Linked DNA regions of Homo sapiens: region 2 is linked to region 1. A link means that fine-mapping ties the variant in region 1 to the expression of a gene that starts in the linked region. Tissue or cell type: whole blood. Region 1 holds a variant in brackets; the other region holds the start of a gene. All regions are shown on one strand. Distances are from middle to middle.

What was found. PIP is the estimated chance that this variant, and not a neighbour inherited with it, causes the effect.
Region 2: ISCA1 starts here. The variant in region 1 is fine-mapped to the expression of ISCA1 in whole blood (TOPMed, PIP above 0.99).

The regions. Positions count from the first base shown.
Region 1 is chr9:86,395,100-86,405,776 of GRCh38, forward strand. No RefSeq gene overlaps it. Among named protein-coding and RNA genes, the nearest start is that of TUT7, 46 kb to the left of the region's middle. The variant G/T (reference allele first, on the strand shown) is at 6,088.
Region 2 is chr9:86,278,180-86,287,517 of GRCh38, forward strand. It overlaps ISCA1 (iron-sulfur cluster assembly 1), which reads right to left and starts at 4,359. Exons shown (of 4, transcript NM_030940.4): 1 at 4,199-4,359. The coding sequence starts at 4,279. It overlaps LOC124902194 (a long non-coding RNA gene), which reads right to left and starts at 3,902. Exons shown (of 2, transcript XR_007061634.1): 1 at 3,790-3,902; 2 at 38-3,274. RefSeq lists a silencer at 3,740-4,039 and enhancers at 4,210-4,359, 4,480-4,759.

The DNA.
Region 1 (10,677 bases):
AAAAGCCAAAATAGACAAACGGGATCTAATTAAACTAAAGAGCTTCTGCACAGCCAAAGAAACCACCATCAGAGTGAAGAGGCAACCTATAGAATGGGAGAAAATCTTTGCAATCTACTCATCTGACAAAGGGCTAATATCCAGAGTCTACAAAAAACTTAAACAAATTTAGAAGAAAAAAACAAACCACCCCATCAAAAAGTGGGTAAAGGATATGAACAGACACTTCTCAAAAGAAGACATTTATGCAGCCAACAGACATGAAAAAATGCTCATCATCACTGGTCATCGGAGAAATGCAAATCAAAACCACAATGAGATACCATCTCATGCCAGTTAGAATGGTGATCATTAAAAAGTCAGGAAACAACAGGTGCTGGGGAGGATGTGGAGAAATAGGAATGCTTTTACACTGTTGGTAGGAGTGTAAATTAGTTCAACCATTGTGGAAGACAGTGTGGTGATTCCTCAAGGATCTAGAACTAGAAATACCATTTGACCCAGCCATCCCATTACTGGGTATATACCCAAAGGATTACAAATCATGCTACTATGAAGACACATGCACATTTATGTTTTTTGAGGCACTATTCACAAGAGCAAAGACTTGGAACTAACCCAAATGTCCATCAGTAATAGACTGGATTAAGAAAATATAGCACATATACACCATGGAATACTATGCAGCCATAAAAAAAGGATGAGTTAATGTCCTTTGCAGGGACATGGATGAATCTGGAAACCATCATTCTAAGCAAACTATCACAAGAATAGAAAACCAAACACTGCATGTTTTCACTCATAGTTGGGAGTTGAACAACGAGTACACATGGACACAGGGTGGGGAACATCACACACTGGGGCCTGTTGGGGGCTGGGGGCTTGGGGAGGGATAGCATTAGGAGAAATACCTAATGTAAGTGATGAGTTGAGGGGTACAGGAAACCAACATGGCACATGTCTACCTATGTAAAAAACCTGCACGTTGTGCACATGTACCGTAGAACTTAAAGTATAATAAAATAAAAAATAATAAAAATAAAAAATAAAAAAGTTACCTCAAGACATCCAGGGTTTCCCTTGGGAGGGGAGAGTCCCCTGCCAGCCTAGGTCAGAACTTTTAACTAATGATATTGGGTGGGGTTAATGCAATGATTCACATTTCCAGAAGCAATCCCTGCTAGCTATCATTCATTGTTTAGGAGGTGTGATATTCCCTCCTGGGCCAAAGAGGTGGAAGTTGAGAAGGAAGAAAGCAGTGAAGAGAATGAGAAAAGGGAAGAACTTGAAAGTCAAATGTGGTGGGAGTAGGAGAAAGCTTGGAAATTCAGTAAGAAAAAATTGAGCCTAAGGCAGAGCTGCACTGCCAATATATAAGGAGAAAATTGAAGAGTGGCCTTCATTCAAGAAAATAGAGTTCGATGAAACAAAAAAAGTAAATAAAAAAGATAAATGGACCTAACCTTGAACTGTCCTGGTTCCTGAACTGGTATGCTTTATCCCCTGGGCATGGAACAGGCCAAAGTGCCTCTCAGTGGGGTTGCCAGAGCAAATAAAGGGTGTCCCATACACTACTTGGAACATTCTTGTACCAAAAAAATTGTTCATTGCTTGCCTGAAACTCAAATCTCACTGGGTGTTTTGTATTCACTTAATTTATTTTGTTTTTGCTTAATTACTCTGTGAGGGCTTGCGCTCTGGGAAAGGATCAACCCAGAGGAATATTTACCGGCTCTCAGGTTGCCTAACCATGCTATCATCTTGCCGTGACTGTGAAAAAAACTCCCTTTTCTTCTTATTCCCAATGTTTTACTTTGAAAAATGTCAAACCTACAGAAGATTTGTGAGAAATGTACAATGAACTTCCATATGCTGTTTATATGTCACTAATTTTACCATTTTTGTCACATTTTCTTCCTTTCTCTCCCTTTGTACGTGTGTATCCTTAGCTGAACCATTTGAGAGTTACAGATATCATGATACCCAAGCCCCAAAACACTCTGCATGTCTCTCTCAAAAATTAGAATATTTTCCTATATATAAGCATGATGCAAAGATCACACTCGGGTCATATTTAACATTGACACAATACTATTTTCTAATATGCAGTCTATATTTAAATTTCTGCAGTTGGCCCAATACTGCTTTTTAGCATGGTTTCTAATTTTAATTTTCAATTTATATTTTTAGAGACTAGGTCCCGCTGTGCTGCCCAGTCTGGTCTCAAACTCCTGGGCTCAAGCGTTCCTCCCGTCTCAGCCACTTGAGCAGCTGGAACCACAGGTCCGTGCTGCTATGCTCAAGTCAGTTTTTGTTTTTTAATTCAAAGTTTGGGCAATGATCAGACCTTGCATTTGTTTTCATGTCTCTTTAGTGTTCTTTAATGTAAAACAGTTTGCCAGCCCTTTTAAAATTTGTGCATGATATTGACATTTTTGAAGAGTTCAGGCTGGTTCTTCTGCACGTGTCTGATTGTTTTCCCATGACTAGACTTTGGTTAAACATTATTGGCAAGAATACTGCACAGGGTGTGGTTGTGTCATGGGTCTCAGTACATTACAGAGCAGAGGACTGGTGATGTGAATTGTTTTAAAAATTGGTGATGTTGAATTTGTTCATTTAATTAAAGTGGTGTCTACTGGATTTCCCCATCATAATCATTCCTTTTTTTCTTTATAATTAAAATATAACCAGTGATGTGCTACTTTGAGACTGCGTGAATATCCTGTTTCCCCATCTTTCTCCCAATGGTTTTAGTACCCACAGATGATTCCTTTGCGAATCATATATTACTGTGGTAGTTACGAAATGGCAATTTTCTTTCTTTCTTTTTTTTTTTTTTTTTTGAGACAGAGTCTTGCTCTGTTGCCCAGGTTGGAGTGCAGTAGCGCCATCTCAGCTAACCACAACCTCCGCCTCCCAGGTTCAGGTGATTCTCCTGTCTCAGCCTCCCAAGTAGCTGGGATTACAGGCACCTGCCACTATGCCTGGTTAATTTTTGTATTTTTAGTAGAGACAGGTTTCACCATGTTGGCCAGGCTGGTCTTGAACTCCTGACCTCAAGTGATCCACCCATCTTGTCCTCCCAAAGCGCTGAGATTATAGGCATGAACCACCACGCCCAGCCATTGAAATGGCAATTTTCTATTATTTTTTCTTTTTTTGAGACAGGGTCTTGCTCTGTCACCCAGGCTGAAGTGCAGTGGCATGATCTTGGCTCACTGCAACCTCCACCTCCTGGGTCCTGATTTTCCTGCCTCAGCCTCCTTAGCAGCTGGGATTACAGGTGTGTGCCACCAGGCTCAGCTGTTTCTTGTATTTTTAGTAGAGATGGGGTTTCATCATGTTGACCAGGCTGGTTTCTAACTCCTGTCCTCAAATGATCTGCCTGCCTCAGCCTCCCAAACTGCTGGGATTACAGGCATGAGCCACTTTGCCTGACTGACAATTTTCTATTTCTATCATTTTGTCTATGTTTATTAGTTGGCATTTTTCTATAAAAAGGACTTCCCTTCTCTTCCTAATCCCTTTAACATTTCTTAATATCAGTATGAACTCATGAATTCTATTTTATTGAGTATGAATTGCCCCAAATTTGATGAGTGGCAGCCCCCATAAACTGGTTCTTGTATCTCTTTGACACATCTTCCTCAGTTTTTGAGCACTTTTAACATTTCTGGCACAATAAGATGTTCCAGGCTCACCTGAAAATGAGCTATGCTTCCAAAGGGTCTGGTGAATGGTATTTAGAGAGCAAGATATGGGTGCTGTGTGTGCTCACTACTCTGTGGCAAAATTGCTTTTAGGGCCTTTCAATGCACAGAACAGGAAAATACTTCTGTCAAAATCATGAATTCATAATGATACCACCAACTGATACCCAATCCAATAATATAGGATCTTCCTCCTCTCCTTCCCCTAATCTATATTTGTATCTTTTTTCTCCCACAGTGAAATTCCTGGTACCTCAAAATGTCAATAGATGTTTACTCATTTGCTCATTCTTGCAATATACACAAAATGGTTCCAGAATTGCCTCACCACCAACACTATTACCAAAAGCAAGCAAACCTAGCAAGTTTAAGATTCTTTTTTTTTTTTTTTTTGGTCTTAGACTCTTAGACTCTATTCCATTGAAGGTGTATAGCCAGAATACTTTCCTGCTGTGTCCAAAAGTTGTTTGGATTAATTCTTTTTTCTTTCCAATCATGTTACCAATTCGATTATAATCAAGTTTATTCATTTCTTTCACTGTCAGGTCTCTGTTCCTCCATTCTTGTTGATTTAATTTTATTTTTTGAATATGTAAAATACCAGCATGGTTCAAAATTCAAGACAGTATGAAAGTTATACTGAGACAGGTCCCATCCCCTTTTCATTTTTTTCCAGTCCATTTCCTCAACCCTCACAGGTAACCAAATTCATTTATTTCTTATTTATCCTGTATTTCTTTTTCTTTCTTCTTTTTTTTTTTTTAACGGAGTCTTGCTCTGTCGCCAGGCTGTAGTGCAGTGGCGCGATCTCGGCTCACTGCAACCTCCACCTCCCGGGGTCAAGCGATTCTCCTGCTTCAGCCTCCCGAGTAGCTGGGACTACAGGCATGCCACCACGCCCAGCTAATTTTTGTGTTTTAGAGACGGGGTTTCACTCTGTTGGCCAGGATGGTCTCGATCTCTTGACCTTGTGATCTGCCTGCCTTGGCCTCCCAAAGTGTTGGGATTACGTGCATGAGCCACAGCACCCGGCCTCTGTATTTTTCTTTTTTAAATAAATGAATGAATATATATTTTGTCTTTATCACACAAAAGGTAGCATACTATATACAGTCTTTTTTCATTTAGTAATATAGTCTGGAAATCAGTTTATATAGTTTAACAGAAATCTTTTTTATATTTGTACCAGAGTTTATCAACCAAACTCCTATGTATGGGCCTTTAGGGTGTTTCCAGTATTTTTCTATTACAAATAATGTTGCGATGAATAACTTTGTGCACGTGTTTTCTTCTGTTGTTGGAGGTGCATTTTCAGGGTAAATTCATAGAAGCGTGATCTCTGGATCAAAGGGAAACTGCAAATGTACTTTTGCTAGATATTGCCCGTTTCCTTTCCGTAGGTAACATTTTGTACCGCCCAGGAGGGAAGGAGAGCGTGTGCTTTCCCACAACCTCTCTTGTTTGTCAAGAGTTTACATTTCTGCCAATCTGATAGGTGCAAAATAGCATCTCATATAGTTTTTTGTTTGTTTGTTTGTTTGTTTTTTTTGAGACAGAGTCTTGCTCTGTCGCCCAGGCTGGAGTGCAGTGGCCCGATCGCGGCTCACTGCAGCCTCCGCCTCCTGGGTTCACACCATTCTCCTACCTCAGCCTCCTGAGTAGCTGGGACTACAGGCGAGCGCCACCACGCCCTGCTAAGTTTTTTTTGTATTTTTAGTAGAGACGGGGTTTCACTGTGTTAGCCAGGGTGGTCTCAATCCCCTGACCTCGTGATCCACCTACCTCGGCCTCCCTAAGTGTTGGGATTACAGGCGTGAGCCACTGCGCCCAGCCGCATCTCATATAGTTTTAACATGTGCTTCTTTTTTATGAGTTGAGCATCTTTTCATGTTTTTTCTTTTCTTTCTTTCTTTTTTTTTTTTAAGACAAAAATCTCACTCTGTTGTGGAGTGCAATGGTGCGATATTGGCTTACTGCAACCTCCGCCTCCCTGGTTCAAGCAATTCTCCTGCCTCAGGCTCCTGAGCAGCGGTGATTACAGGTGTGGTGGAGGGCTAATTTTTGGTATTTTTAGTAGAGATGAGGTTTCACCGTGTTGGCCAGGCTGGTCTTTAACTCCTGACCTCAGGTGATCCCCCTGCCTCAGCCTCTCAAAGTGCTGGGATTACAGGCGTGAGCCACCACACCCAGCCTCATGTGTTCTTTTCCTTTTTAAAAATATATATAAAACTTTGGTCATAATATTGGAATTGAATTATTCATCAGGGCTGAAATAAAATGAAACAAAACTTTTTTTCCCAAAGAATCTCTATCTTGGTGGCTTCACGTACATAAGAAATAGTTTTATGATGTATTAGAGAACAATGGATTTAAA[G/T]ATAAAGCATGATTTTGTAACAATATTACAAAACAGTTTGAGGCATGAAGTTAAAAAAAGTCACTATCTGAGTGGAATAAGTTCTACAGTTCTGTATTTTCTCCATGCAAATTTGGAGAAAGGTTAATGATAATCTCTTTGTCTGGTATATCACTCTATTACAAAAGGCTCTTACTTGCTTCTTTTCTTTTTTTGAGACAGTCTCCCTCAATTACCCAGGCTGGAGTGCACTGGTGCGATTTCGGTTTACTGCATTCCCAACCTCCTGGGCTCATGTGATTCTCCCATCTCAGCCTCCCGAGTAGCTGGGACTACAGGTGTATGCCACCACACCCGGCTAATTTTTGTATTTTTTGTAGAGATGGGGTTTCACCATGTTGCCCAGGCTGGTCTCGAACTACTCGCTCAAGCCATCAGCCTGGCTCAGCCTCCCAAAGTGCTGAGATTACAGGCGTGAGTCACCACGCCCTGCCCAAGAATCTCACTTTTAATACTGTGGGGCACATTGGACCCATTTTATCCCATTTTATGGATGAGAAAACTGAGACTGAGAGAGGTTTGGAGACTTGTGCAAGGCTATGTGACTAATAAGAGGCAGAGTCACAATTAGAACTCTGGGCCGGGTGCGGTGGCTCATGCCTGCAATCCCAGCACTTTGGGAGGCCAAGGCGGGTGGATCACCTGAGATCAGGAGTTCAAGACCAGCCTGGCCAACATAGTGAAACCCTATCTCTACTAAAAACACAAAAAATTTAGCTGGACATGGTGGCGGGCACCTGTAATCCCAGCTACTCAGGAGGCTGAGGCAGGAGAATCACTTGAAACTGGCAGAGGTTGTAACGTGAGCCGAGATTGCACCATTGCACTCCAGCCTGGGCAATGAGAGCAAAACTCTGTCTCAAACAAACAAACAAACAAACAAAAAAAGAAATAGAACTCCGGCTGTTTGATCAGTATTCTTCAAGTCACTAAAAATTAAACATTAAATTGTGAATTCACATCCTGGGTATTTACGTTTCAGTGGTAGTTCAGAATTTAGGGTTTTTCTTGTGTATTGATAGAAAACTCATTTTAAAAATACTGATTATGGCAATGCAGTTAGTAAGCTAAAATTTTTTCCTTCTATTACTTTTTGTCTTTTTTTAAATTTGAAGTGGAGTCGTGCTCTGTCACCCAGGCTGTCTGGAATGCAGTGGTGCAATCTCAGTTCACTGCAACCTCCACCTCCCGGGTTCAAGCGATCCTCCCACCTCAGCCTCCTGAGTAGCTGGGACTACAAGCACCCACCAGGTTTTTTGTTTTTTTTTAGTAGAGATGGGGTTTTGCCATGTTGCCCTGTCTGGTCTCTGACTCGTGAGCTCAAGTAATCCTCTTGCCTCGGCCTCGCAAAGTCCTTGGATTACAGGTGTGAGCCACTGTGCCCAACCTTCTAAGTTAATGATGTTAATTAAATATTTTTTCATTTGGGGCATGCCCAGCAACTCAGGGTAAGCCAAATTTATAGTTTATGGAGATGCTAAGTAAAGTGGAGACACAGTTTATGCATATGCAGAGGACTCATCTGCCATTTTCAGACTTTCTTGGGTGTTCCTATCAGTTTCCTGTCAGTGACTTCCTCTCTCCCTGATGGTAAAAACTAAACTTGGTAACGTGGTCTGCAGCCCCTGAGAAACCTGCTCCTTCCAACCTCCCGGCTTCATGCTGCTCATTCTCCCCAGCGTTCTTTTTGCCCTAAACACACATTGCATTCTTTCAGTCCTCCAACTTGCCACCCATATTCCTCTTCCTGGGGTGCTTTGCTCTATTTTCTTCACCTAGTTAAGGTCTCATCATTCAGTTCTCAGGCCAAGCATTGCTTATTTGTGGAAGAGGTCTCTGATCCCCCTGGCGAGGCCAGCTTCCCTGTTCATTCTCTCATTGCACCATGAGAGGGCTGCATAGCCCTCCTGACCACTGTCATTTTATAGACTTTTGTGCAGTGACTTGATTAGTGTCTGTCTTTCTCATTGGTGTGTGAATGCCAGGACTCTGGTTTTGCTCAACATGGGGTTCCACAGCCTGGCATAGTTCCTTTGCACATGGCAGGAGTTCAGCAAATATTGATGGGTGCATGACTTTGTTCATGGTTGTCTCTGTGCATCTGCACGGGGGTTCCCTCTGCTTGGCATGCCACTTACACACTGTCTCATCTCTAGATCTTTTTGCACCTTAATATTTTGAGCCTTTAGTAGAAATACATACAGTAGGTTCTCACTTAATGACCTCAATCGGTTCTTGGAAACTGTGACTTTAAGCAAAATGATGTGTGACAAAACCAATTTTTTTTAATCAACGTTATAATAAAACAATGTTGAACAAAACGATGCTATTTGAGGACCTGCTACACATAGTTCTGCTTAAAGTCGCAGTTTCCAAGAACCTATCAAAAACGTTAAGTGAGGACTTACTATGTGTTTAATCATATGATATTTTATGTAACCCAGCTAGCAGCTGAGGCCACATTGCCTTCTAGCTCTACTTCTGCCTGTATTTTTTCTGCTTTATGATCTGTCAACTTGGACACAAACCCCACTCATACTCTTAACCCACTTCCAAGCCTTTATGGGCTTAGTGGCTTTGGTGAGACTTTGAGGGGCTGTCTTCTTTATCACTGCATTGACTCTTCTTTTTTCTCTCTCTTTTAACTTTCTCTTTCCTTCAGTCTCTTCTTCCTCCTTCACTTCAGGAGTGTCACAGACATCTCACCCTTCTCAGGATAATTTTGTGGAAGCCACAGTGCCAGCCAACATCCATGACCCCATGGGTACCTCCCTGGCTGAAGTGGGCTGACCCAGGGTCTTTTCCCAACAATGATGGATCCTGTACAAGATGAATTCTGGTACCTGCTGCTAAAAGGATACAATTTCATTATTGTTATGGGCTGAATGTTGTGTACCTCCAAAATGGGTATGTTGAAATCCTAACCCCCAAGGTGATGGTATCAGGAGGTGGAGGCTTTGGGAGGTGATTAGGCAATGATGAAGAAGCCCTCTTGAATGGGATTAGTGCCCCTTTAGAAGGCACCCCATAGAACGCCCTCATTATGTGAGACACAGTGAGAAGAACCAGGAAGCAGGCCCTCACCAGACATGGAATCTATCAGTGTCTTGATCTGGGACACTCCAGCCTCCAGAACAGTAAGAAATAATAAGTTCCTGTTGTTTATAAGCCAACCAGTTTATGGTATTTTGTTATAAAAGCCAAAATAGACTAAGAACATTATGTTATATTAGAGTGATATCATATAACTGATCAAGTTTGGAGGATGTCCAGTGCCCTAGCCCATGCCGTCTGAGGAGAGGTTGATGAAGAGAATGATGAGAGGAAGTGAGAATAACTTTCTCACCTTTCCTGAGACACATTCCTCCTACCATGGTCCCATTACGGGGCCTTCCTACAATCACTTTCCAGCTTTCCCTTGTTTCCCTGTTTCTACCCTCAGACAAAGTAGTAGAATGATTACATTCTCAAGAGGTCCTGTGAGGATGCTTGGGCAAAATCAGACTCATGTCAGGCCATTTTAATTTCTAGAATCCCCGGATAGGACCTGCGGCCAGCTCAGAAAGACCTGATGGTAATGTGCCATCTTCCCTTCACAAACACTTGAGTGGGTCTGTCTAAATGTCCTAAGTGGACATTTCTGTTATCCTCAGTTTTTCTTCCAGGGTTCGTCGCATTTCTTTGTGAAAAGCTACCTTATGCAAGCATTTTGTGTGATACTGTTCAGAGTCTGAGGTTTTAGCGCTGACCCTGGAGACCGTTAGTTTTATTCTATACTAGGTGTTTGTAAGTGGGGACTTTATTTAGATAAATTGACAACAGCAAAGTGCCACCCCACTTCACCCCAACATTCATTAAGGATTTGCTGTGTCCCAGAAATTATACTCTGGTGGTTATACACATTGCCTCATTATATCCTTAAAACTGCTTTTTGAGACAGATAGGATTGTGATTCCTGTAGCAATCTTGAAACTGGACTCAGAGAGGGTAGGAAGTTTGTTCTAAGGCGCACAGCTATGACCAGCACAACTGAATCTTACCTTAACTCACATCAAAGCCTCTGAGCTTAAATATTAGGCTATTTACCATGGCTGTGAGAGACGGGGAACAAAAAACAGTGTTTAGTTAAATCAACAGCTATGTTTACACTCTCTGTATAAACAGTGCAATGTCCTCAAAGAAATCACACAAGAAGGAACAGTAACTCCTGCCAACACACTGGTAAACTTGGCTCTGCCAAAACTATTAGCTCTTGTTTTCACTCATCAATGTCTTATGTTTCTTTTGCCATCATCTTTTTTTATTCATTAACCCCAGAGCCTCAACTATCTCTCATTTAAGATAATTGTTCTTATAGTTTTCCAGAAAAACCCATTTCTCCTTTTACTTTTTCCTAGTATCTCTTCCCATAAAAGGCAATGCCCCTAAATTTGTATCATTCCAGGCATTAGAGAACCAAGCTCAGAAACACTTATAAGATTTTTAAGGTTATCGTTCTCCCCCCAAAACACATGCACATTACCTTTGCAGAGTTATTATTCAAAATATAGA
Region 2 (9,338 bases), 120 kb before region 1:
TCTGGGGGAACAAAAGATGGTAAATAAATAGAGCCAGTGAACAAGTACAGTGTATTTTATTAAAATCATTCTTTAACAGCCATGGCTGGCATTAGAGTGTCAAAATAAGAAAAGACAAAAGCATTCTCTTTTGTCTTTTCTTATTTGTGTATATGTGTATATACACATCCAAAATACATATAATATACAAATATATATTTGTAGGCCAGGTGTGGTGGCTCATGCCTGTAATGCCAGCACTTTGGGAGGCCAAGGTGGGAGGACGGCTTGAGGCCAGGAGTTTGAGACCAGCCTGTGCAACAGAGCAAGACCCTGTCTCTACAATAAATTAAAAAAAAAAAATTAGCAGTCAAGGTGACATGTGCCTGTAGTCCCAGTTACTTGGGAGGCTGAGGTGAAAGGATTGCTTGAGCCCAGGAGTTTGAAGCTGCAGTAAGCCATGATCATGCCACTGCATATGAGCCTGGGTGACAGAGGAAGATCCTGTCTCTAAAAAGAAAAAGGTTTGTAATCATGGCATATATACATAATTTTGCAGCCTCCATTGAAACAATTTAACAAATTATTTTTTCATTTGATACATGGTAATAAACATATATTCACCATTTACTGAGCACCTTCTAAGTGTTTAATGGTTTAAACGTAACATCTTTTTATTCCTGCCATTGTGATTTAGGTATTAAAGATTAAATAATTTGCACAGCATAAGTCAAAGAATGAAGATTTATAACGCTGAAACTTAAAAAAAACCATAATTTACAATGACTACATCCTTCACCAACAGGATCTACTCTCACGTACTTAACCGTTCTTTCACTGTTAGACTGCTAGGCTACTTCCAGTGCTTCTTGTGTAGTATTTCCTAAACTGCCTTCGTATAGAAATCTTAGTGCTTGGTCACTGTTCAAAAGGACTTCTGGTTCTAGTCCAATGAACTAACACACAGTTCCTTACTGAGCATTAAGCATTTCCTAGCTTCTCAACTGGACTCCAATAGAAAGTTAAGCCCTAAGGCACCTTCCGTACACAATGAATTCATCAAGAATGATAGTGGCTGTGCACCATCATTCTCTCATAGAACTTGGTTGAGTTTTAATGCACAGCTGTGATCCACCCCAGTCCTACAAATTAGAGTTGCTCTGACTTGTACAATGATGGAAATAAATCTGTCTGCAAGCAGGGCACTATTTACTCTTCAGATTCTTTAATCACATCTGGCTCCTGCAAGTTCAATTCCACTTGTCAATTTCTAGATATGTAGGGAAATAGGGAAGATGTAGATAATCTGATAATGACAGCATTGAACTGTGTTATATTATCAGTTACTTTTCCTAGCCTTTTGTTGACATCTGGTAGACTCCACACATATAGCACTTTTCAAATGTTGCAACATGTCAAATTCCTAACATCAAAATTTATATATCCAGGTAACATTTATCCCTTCCAATCAGTTTTACTGAATTAGGTATACTTGTGTTTGCTCTTATCTGTCTCTACTTATTAGACCCAAGTAACATTTACCTCTTCCAATCAGTTTTACTGAATTACGTATACTTTTGTTTGCTCTCTTATCTGTCTCCATTCATTAGGCCTTTGACGGCATCACTACTTTTGCACTTGACGATACATGCTGATGATAAACTAAGCACAAAGAGCAATACATGCCATAGTGTCCTGACTAGGGCACGAATGCTGGAACTAAAATGACTGCAAGCCCACCAACACAGGCTGTGTGGAAAACAGCATTGATGTGCCTTCTCTCTGGTACAGCTTCTGAGAAGCTTCTAAAGTCAGCCATACTTAAGTAGGACAACAGAGTACAGACAGTAGACTCCTGCAAGTTAATCAAAACAGCTGAGTCAGGCAACATGGATACCTTGAGAACTGCTATGATAACATGTACTGAAGCAGAGGGGAGCAAGTGTGGAGAGAGACCAAGCCTGAGAATGTGCAGTGCTATTACTCCTAGTAAGAGGTGGCAAAGGCTTGGCCTGCGACTGTGCCCCGTAGGCTGGGAACTGTATAACTCATTCATTTGTCTTGAAACACAGCAGATCTTGATAAATGTCTGCTGAATGACTAGGAATGGAGAGAAAGGGACTGACATAGAAATTCTGAAGGAAGGGCAAGGCACGGTGGCTCATGCCTGTGATCCCAGCACTTTGGGAGGCTGAGACGAGTGGATCACGAGGTCAGGAGTCCAAGACCAGCCTGGTGAAGATGGTGAAACCCCATCTCTACTAAAAATACAAAAATAAATAAATAAATAAGCTGGGCATGGTGGTGGGCGTCTGTAATCCCAGCTACTCAGGAGGCTGAGGCAGAGAGTTGCTTGAACTCAGTAGGCAGAGGCTGCAGTGAGCTGAGATCACGCCACTGCACTCCAGCCTGGGCAACCCAGCGAAACCCTGTCTCAAAAAAAAAAAAAAAAAAAAGAAATTCTGAAGGAAGAGGTAACATGTCAAATGGTGATGGAGAAAGACATCAGGGACCAGGCATGGTGGCTCACACCTGTAATCCCTGCACACTGGGAGCCTGAGGCAGTGGACTGCTTGAGCCCAGGAGTTCGAGACCAGCCTGGGCAACCCAGGGAGACCCTAGGTGCATGCATGACGGTGCACACCGGTGGTCCCAGCGACTTGGGAGCCTGAGGTGGGAGGATCGCTTGGGCCCAGGAGGTTGACGCTGCAGTGTGCCATGATTGCACCACTGAACTACAGCCTGGGAGATAGAGTGAGACCCTGTCTCCAAAAACAAAACAAACAAAAACAAACAAACAAACAAAAAACAAAAAACAAAAAACCCAGTTAATAGGGTTGCTAAAAAGCAAAAAAGAAAAGGCAAAAACTGTTCCTGAACCTTCTGGCTCTTCCTGGATCTACCATTACCAGTGGAAGAATTCTGAATAATTCTTACTGAGATTGAAAGAGACACAAAGAATGAGTTGTGCCCTCTAGTTCTTAAAACCTTGTTTAATTCTACATCCCACGGTGTATGAAAATAAGCTTGCTCCTACAGAAAAGAGGTAATATAGAATGATACATAATCAGTACACTAGTAGTACCATATATAATCAGGGTAATATCAAAGGCCTAAAAAATTGATTATAAAAATAAATTCTCTCACCTGATCACAATTTTCTTCTACTTTGCTACAAACTTATTTTCTGGTAATAGGCCCTTTTGGCATTAGATGCAACAGAATCGATGAGTCAATTTAAATCGTTTTTTTTCCCAGTCTCTAAGCGAATGGTTGCATAAAGTCGTCTCCTTCACTAAAAGGGGAGTGTATGTAGGAACGTGATCATAAATTTTTCTTTTGGGGTGAAAGTATTTTGGAACTAGATAGAGGTGATGGTTGCACGACACTGTGAATGTCTTAAATGGCACTGAATTGTACCCTTTAAAAGGACTAATTTTATGTTATGTGGATTTTCCTTCCACTAAAAAACTGAACGGTGCGGCCGGAACACTGAGCTCAGTGAATTCTCTAAGTAATCAATGGTTGCACTCTGGTGCCCTCTGAGTGTTTGACCTTTCACCCAGAAAAGGCTGTAAACTCACTCTGGGAAATCATCTTTTGTCCTAAGAGCCTAGGCTTGCTAGAGGCACAGAGGGAGTTTCAAAGGCCTCAATCACCCAGGACACCGGCAAGTAACGCTTTGCGCGCCGCGGCCGTGACCTCGGCAGGAGCCGGGGGCTTTGTTGTCGCTGTGCTCGCCCTCTGCGAACGCTGTCGCCCCGACACAGCGGTCCTTCGGACAGCCTGGTCCCTCCCCACCCCACGCACCTCCAGGCTAGGACTCCGGGCCACCACCGGGAACCCCCGCCACCGGGCACGTTCAGCCTCTGCTTAACCGGAACGGCCGAACAGCGCAGGCCGGCAGGAGTGTGGAGGCGATCGGCCCCCGGGGACGCCCACCCCCGGGATCCCCTCCGGCCCGCACGCGGTTGCCGCGCGGCCTGACGGGAAACGTAGTTTCCGGGGCCAAGAGAGCAGCCCCGCCCGGGACTTGTTTATCGTTGCAAAGAGGGGCCGGAGGCGAAGGAGGCGGCGAGGCTGTGCGGCGGGTCGGAGCGACGCCGAGGTCTGACGTGTCCGCGTCCCTGCGGCCCCACTCCCGGCCGCCGTGACCTCCCCTTGCACGGGGCGGACACGAGCAATGTCACGGGCCCCGCCGCGCGCCGCGAGCACTCACCAGGGTGAGGGCTGCCCGGGTGGGCTGCAGCTTCCTCTTGCTCACAGCCCGGACAGTTGCCCGGACTAAGGAAGCCGACATCTTCGCCGTCCCGGCGCCCCGGTGCCTCGGGCCGAAGGTCGGCCGCCTCAGCTTCTCTCCATGGACACGGCGGGCGCATTGACGCCACAAGCTTCGGCGCACGGCGCCCTCAGTCCTAGCCCCGCCCCCCGCCGCCACCATTGGGTGAGTTGCATGAGTGACGAGCCGGGGGCGGGGCAAGCCGCTCGGGGCGGGGTTTTGCCGCTCAACGCCGGGGGTCTAGCAGCTGGGTTGCGCACGGTCTCCGGCAGTGGGGTTACCACGCTGCAGGGCGCAGGGCCCGGGAGGAATGTCTTCACCGCCGAGGACGGAGTCGGCGTGACGTCGGGGAGCGGGCGGGAGGGGGCGAGGAATGACCTCAGACCTGCTGACTCCGGATGCACGTAGCTTCACCACCTGCCCCCGGGGCAAGGTGCAGCGTCACCCCCTGCTTTAATACTCACCGTGACAAACACCATCATAGGCGGTGACACTTAAGGACGCATAAGTCAACCCTGCACTGGGAGCTTATGCTCTCAAATGCAGAGTGATCGTTCCGATGCCCAGACATCTACATCCATTTTCATTCTTCTTTTGTGGTCCAATTAGGCTGTTCTTAAGAGCATGGCGTTACCGCAGAGTTGTATAATCGCCACCCTCCACCCTTCTCCCCAGCGTGCTGTACTGCTGGGGATGCTGAAGGGTGGTGACTAATGCAGTTTTCATTCTGGTGCTGAACTGGGAACCAACCCTACTTGAAAATGTGACTGGGCAGCAGTGTGAATAGTCACATTTATAGCGAGCAACAATTACTCGATTTAAAACGTGTTGTCAGACCTTGTCCTGGCTGCTCAGGGGCTTAATTCTGCCTTTTGATGCAGTATTCCTGAGCACCAGACACTGCACAGGCGCGGTACCCAGGCATACACAGGAAGCCAGGTAAAGAGGGGCCAGGGAAGAATGAGATACTGGCAGGACAGGGCTAGCAGATGAAGAGAGGAGGACATCAAGACAGGTGGCATTTGTCATTGAAGTGCTAGAAGTGAAGGAAAAAGGGCAGGAGGGGTCTATGAAGCAGTCCTGGGGAGGACAGATTCGCAGTGTTTGAATGTGGGAAGAACTAATCAGTGAAACATTTTTTAAAGCCAAGTTTATCTTCGATCTCCTGCAGTTTCTGAAAGGATAGTTCAAAATTCCATCAAGTAGTTCTGACTTCCTGCTACAGAAATGCAATCGCATTGACAATAAGAGGACGCTTTTTTTTTTCCCCTAAGCCTTATCTGCACATAAACTGGGGGCCGGGCGCGTGGCTCACGCCTGTAATCCCAGCACTTTGGGAGGCCGAGGCGGGGAGATCACCTGAGGTCAGGAGTTCGAGACCAGGTTGGCCAACATGGTGAGACCCCATCTCTGCTAAAAATACAAAAATTAGCCGGGTGTGGTGGTGCACACCTGTTATCCTAGCTACTCAGGAGGCTGAGGCAGGAGAATCGCTTGAACCTGGGAGGCGGAGGTTGCAGTGAGCTGAGATCGTGCCACTGCACTCCCAGCCTGGGCAACGGAGTGAGACTCTGTCTCAAAAAAAAAAAGAAAGAACGGAAGATAGGAAGAGAGAGACAGACAGACAGATAGAAAGAAGAAAGAAAGAGAGAGAAAGAAAGAAAATAAAAGAAACTGGGGGCCGGGCGCAGTGGCTCACACGTGTAATCCCAGCACTTTGGGAGGCCGGAGGCCGGCAGATTACTTGAGATAAGGAGTTCTAGACCAGCCTGGCCAACATGGTGAAACCCCGTCTCTACTAAAAATACAAAAATTAGCCGGGCGTGTTTGCGGGCACCTGTAATCCCAGCTACCCAGGAGGCGGAGGTTGCAGTGAGCCAAGATTGCGCCACTGCACCCCAGCCTGGGTGACAGAGCGAGACTGCATCTCGAAAGAAAGAAACTGAAAAAGTGATGGGAGGGAGGAAGGGAGGGAGGGAGGGACATAGAGAGGTGGTGGTGTGGTGGGTTTGTTTCTTGGCCTTCATCTTTGACTACCTGGGGGTTTGGGATCTCATATCCTCCCTCCTACAGATATTGTGAAGATTAAATGAGTTAATACAGGAGAAGCCCTTAGAGGGGTGCAAGGCACACAGCCTCACTCAAATGGTAATTGTTAATGAGTATTTAAAGATGCCATGTATTGTGAAACTACTATAATGGTGGATAGATATCATTATGCGTTTGTCAAAACCCACACAATGTACACCACCAAGAGTGAACCCTAAGGTAAACTATGGGCACTGAGAGCTAATGATGTGTCCATGTAGGTTTAAGATTGTAACAAGTGTACCACTGTGGTGCAGAGTGACAGTGAGGCACATGTGGAAACAAGGGATATATGCAGTTCTGTTTTTCTGCTTAACTTTGCTGTGAACCTAAAACAGCCCTAAAATTAAAATTTAATAAAAATAAAAGATGCTGTCATTTTTTTTTCAGTTATTGACACATTACACAGTTGTGCAGCACTTTACAAGATTCAGAAAACTCCATGAGCATATTATATTATCTCATACTAGCCTCACAACTTTGAACTGAGTAGGGCAGAAGCACTGGCATGGCAGTTTTACAGATGCTGAAACTCAAGGATTTTAGTAGAGAGCATTAGACACTATTGAAAACATCTAGTCCTCAATTTTCTGATTCAGGATCCTGTGTATGTTTAACAGACTTCTTTCCTCTATTTAATACCCACTATTTAACAAAAACAAACAAAAAAGAAAACCCCACTATTCAGTTTTTAACTTGGTTAGTTGTTTTGCACATAAGCATTAAGTCACATAATCTACTTGTTAGTTTCTAATATCACTTGAAACTGGCACAAGTCCCTGAAATAATGTTATGTTAGAATAAATAATTTTCACGATTATTTAAGCAGTATGTGAGCTTATCTCAGAGCAGCAGCTGTCCAGTGGTGTCAAAATGAGGTGGGTATGGGAAGTGTCAAAAGAGTTACAAGCTGTAACCACTTTTAGATTTCCACTAATATGTGACAGAACTTGCAATAGGGAACTGTTTCACCCCGCACTTCAGGCATTAGTTTCATAGTTCTAGACATTTAAAGAAGTGTTTTCCTGGTAAGACCTCACTTGATTATCACAACTGTGTGGAAAGCCAAGAATGGTTTCCATTTTATAGGAATGGAAACTGAACTGCCTGAGATTAGGGGACTGCCACACAGCTGGAAAACGAGGTGGGCCAGACCTTGTCTAAGTCTAGAGTTCCATTCAGTGGAAAGTCTATGTAGTTCTTGACTGCTGCTGTCCAAATATGCCTGCTTCCAAAGAAAAAACTACTGAGGGCTTTACAGTTTTACAGGGGTTTGATAAATTCTGTTTTCAACGTGTGTGTGTATATTTTTGCTTGTAACACTGAACTCTATTGATGTATTTATCCAGGATCTTTTCCACTCAGGAAAGATTTAAAAGTAGAAGCCATTTGTCAAACATATTTCAAGAAGAAAAATACACTGAAGTTATCTAAGAACATTTAAAAACATTTTTGCACACTGCTGATCCTGCACACATTGAGCAAGAGTTTTGTTGTTGTTGTTGTTGTTTGAGATGGAGTCTTGCTCTGTCGCCGAGGCTGGAGTGCAGTGGTGCAATCTTGGCTCATTGCAACCTCCGTCTCCTGGGTTCAAGTGATTCTCCTGCCTCAGCCTTCTGAGTAGCTGGGATTACAGATGCCCATTACCAAGCCCAGCTAATTTTTGTATTTTTAGTAGAGACGGGGTTTTGCCATGTTGGCCAGGCTGGTCTCGAACTCCTGACCTCAAGCGATCTGCCCGCCTCGGCCTCCCAAAGTGCTGGGATTACAGGGGTGAGCCACTGCACCCAGCCAAGCAAGAGTTTTAAACATCATAGATTGGGGCCACTGGACCACTGCTATACAAAAGAGATTTCATATTTTTGTTCCTGAGAGAAGGTGGCAAGGAGAACCTTGGTAATGGGGCATTTGTACAGCTTAAGATAGATAAGCCGGCTGCACTTGAAAGATAGCTAGGCCAATGGACTTAGCAAAGAGCAGACGTTTTGGCATCCCAGCTGGGGCAGCAAGATGGGGCTGCGACCACATCCAGGTAAAGAATCAAGGGCAATCCATTATCCAGGCCTGCTGGCAAATACTGCTCATTGTCCCATGGATCCAGTGTGAGGTATTGAAAATCAAACAAAAGACCCAGTACTTTGGGCAGAAGCTACCTTAAGGATCAGATTAAAATGTAGGAAACTTTTAACATCCTTAAAGGGATACAAGAAAATATGGCTCCTATGAAAAGGAAGAGAATATAAGTAAACTAAAGAAATGAGAGGTAAAGGAAGGTCAGTGAGGCAAATTCCAGAAAATTAGAAGTGCAATGAGAAAATCCATATTAGAAACAGGAAGCACCAGAATGACAGTAAAAATTAAGCCAGTCATGTAGAGATTAAACTTGAAGTTTTCCTAGCATGAAAAGTCACTGGATAGATGTATTTCTATATTGAGGTAATTTTCTTTCTGAATTACAGGGATAAAATTAAAAAACAGAAGCACCCAGGCAGAAAAACAAAACCTACAAGAGAACAAAAATCAGCCTGGTCTTAGACTTGTCTTCTGCTATAATGCTAGAAAACAACAGAACAGCATCAATGGGCTTTTCAAAGAAAAGTGTGACAAGCATTGTAAGCCTAGTCGACTTTCATGCATGAGTTAGAGAGAAGAAACCAGAAGGGGGCAGCTGAGGACGGTCACGTAGAGCAGCATCAGCCCAGGTTGCGTCATTCATTAGTTTGCGTTCAAAATGAGTAGGGAATGATCACTAATTCTTTCTACCATGGCCTCCAAATTCTGAAGTCTTTAATTTTGATATGATTCGTCTTTAGCTAGACTGTCTTCAAATAATTGTTTAAAAAAGAAGGGCACAGGGATGTGCGTCTTCTGAGTCCTCAAACATCCAGAATGTTCGTCCAGCAAGCACCCCCTGAGCCTCCCTGCCTACAAATTCCCCGCCCCCCCACCCCCATCTGTGCCTTTTATAATAACAAATTTATACGTTCCCAGA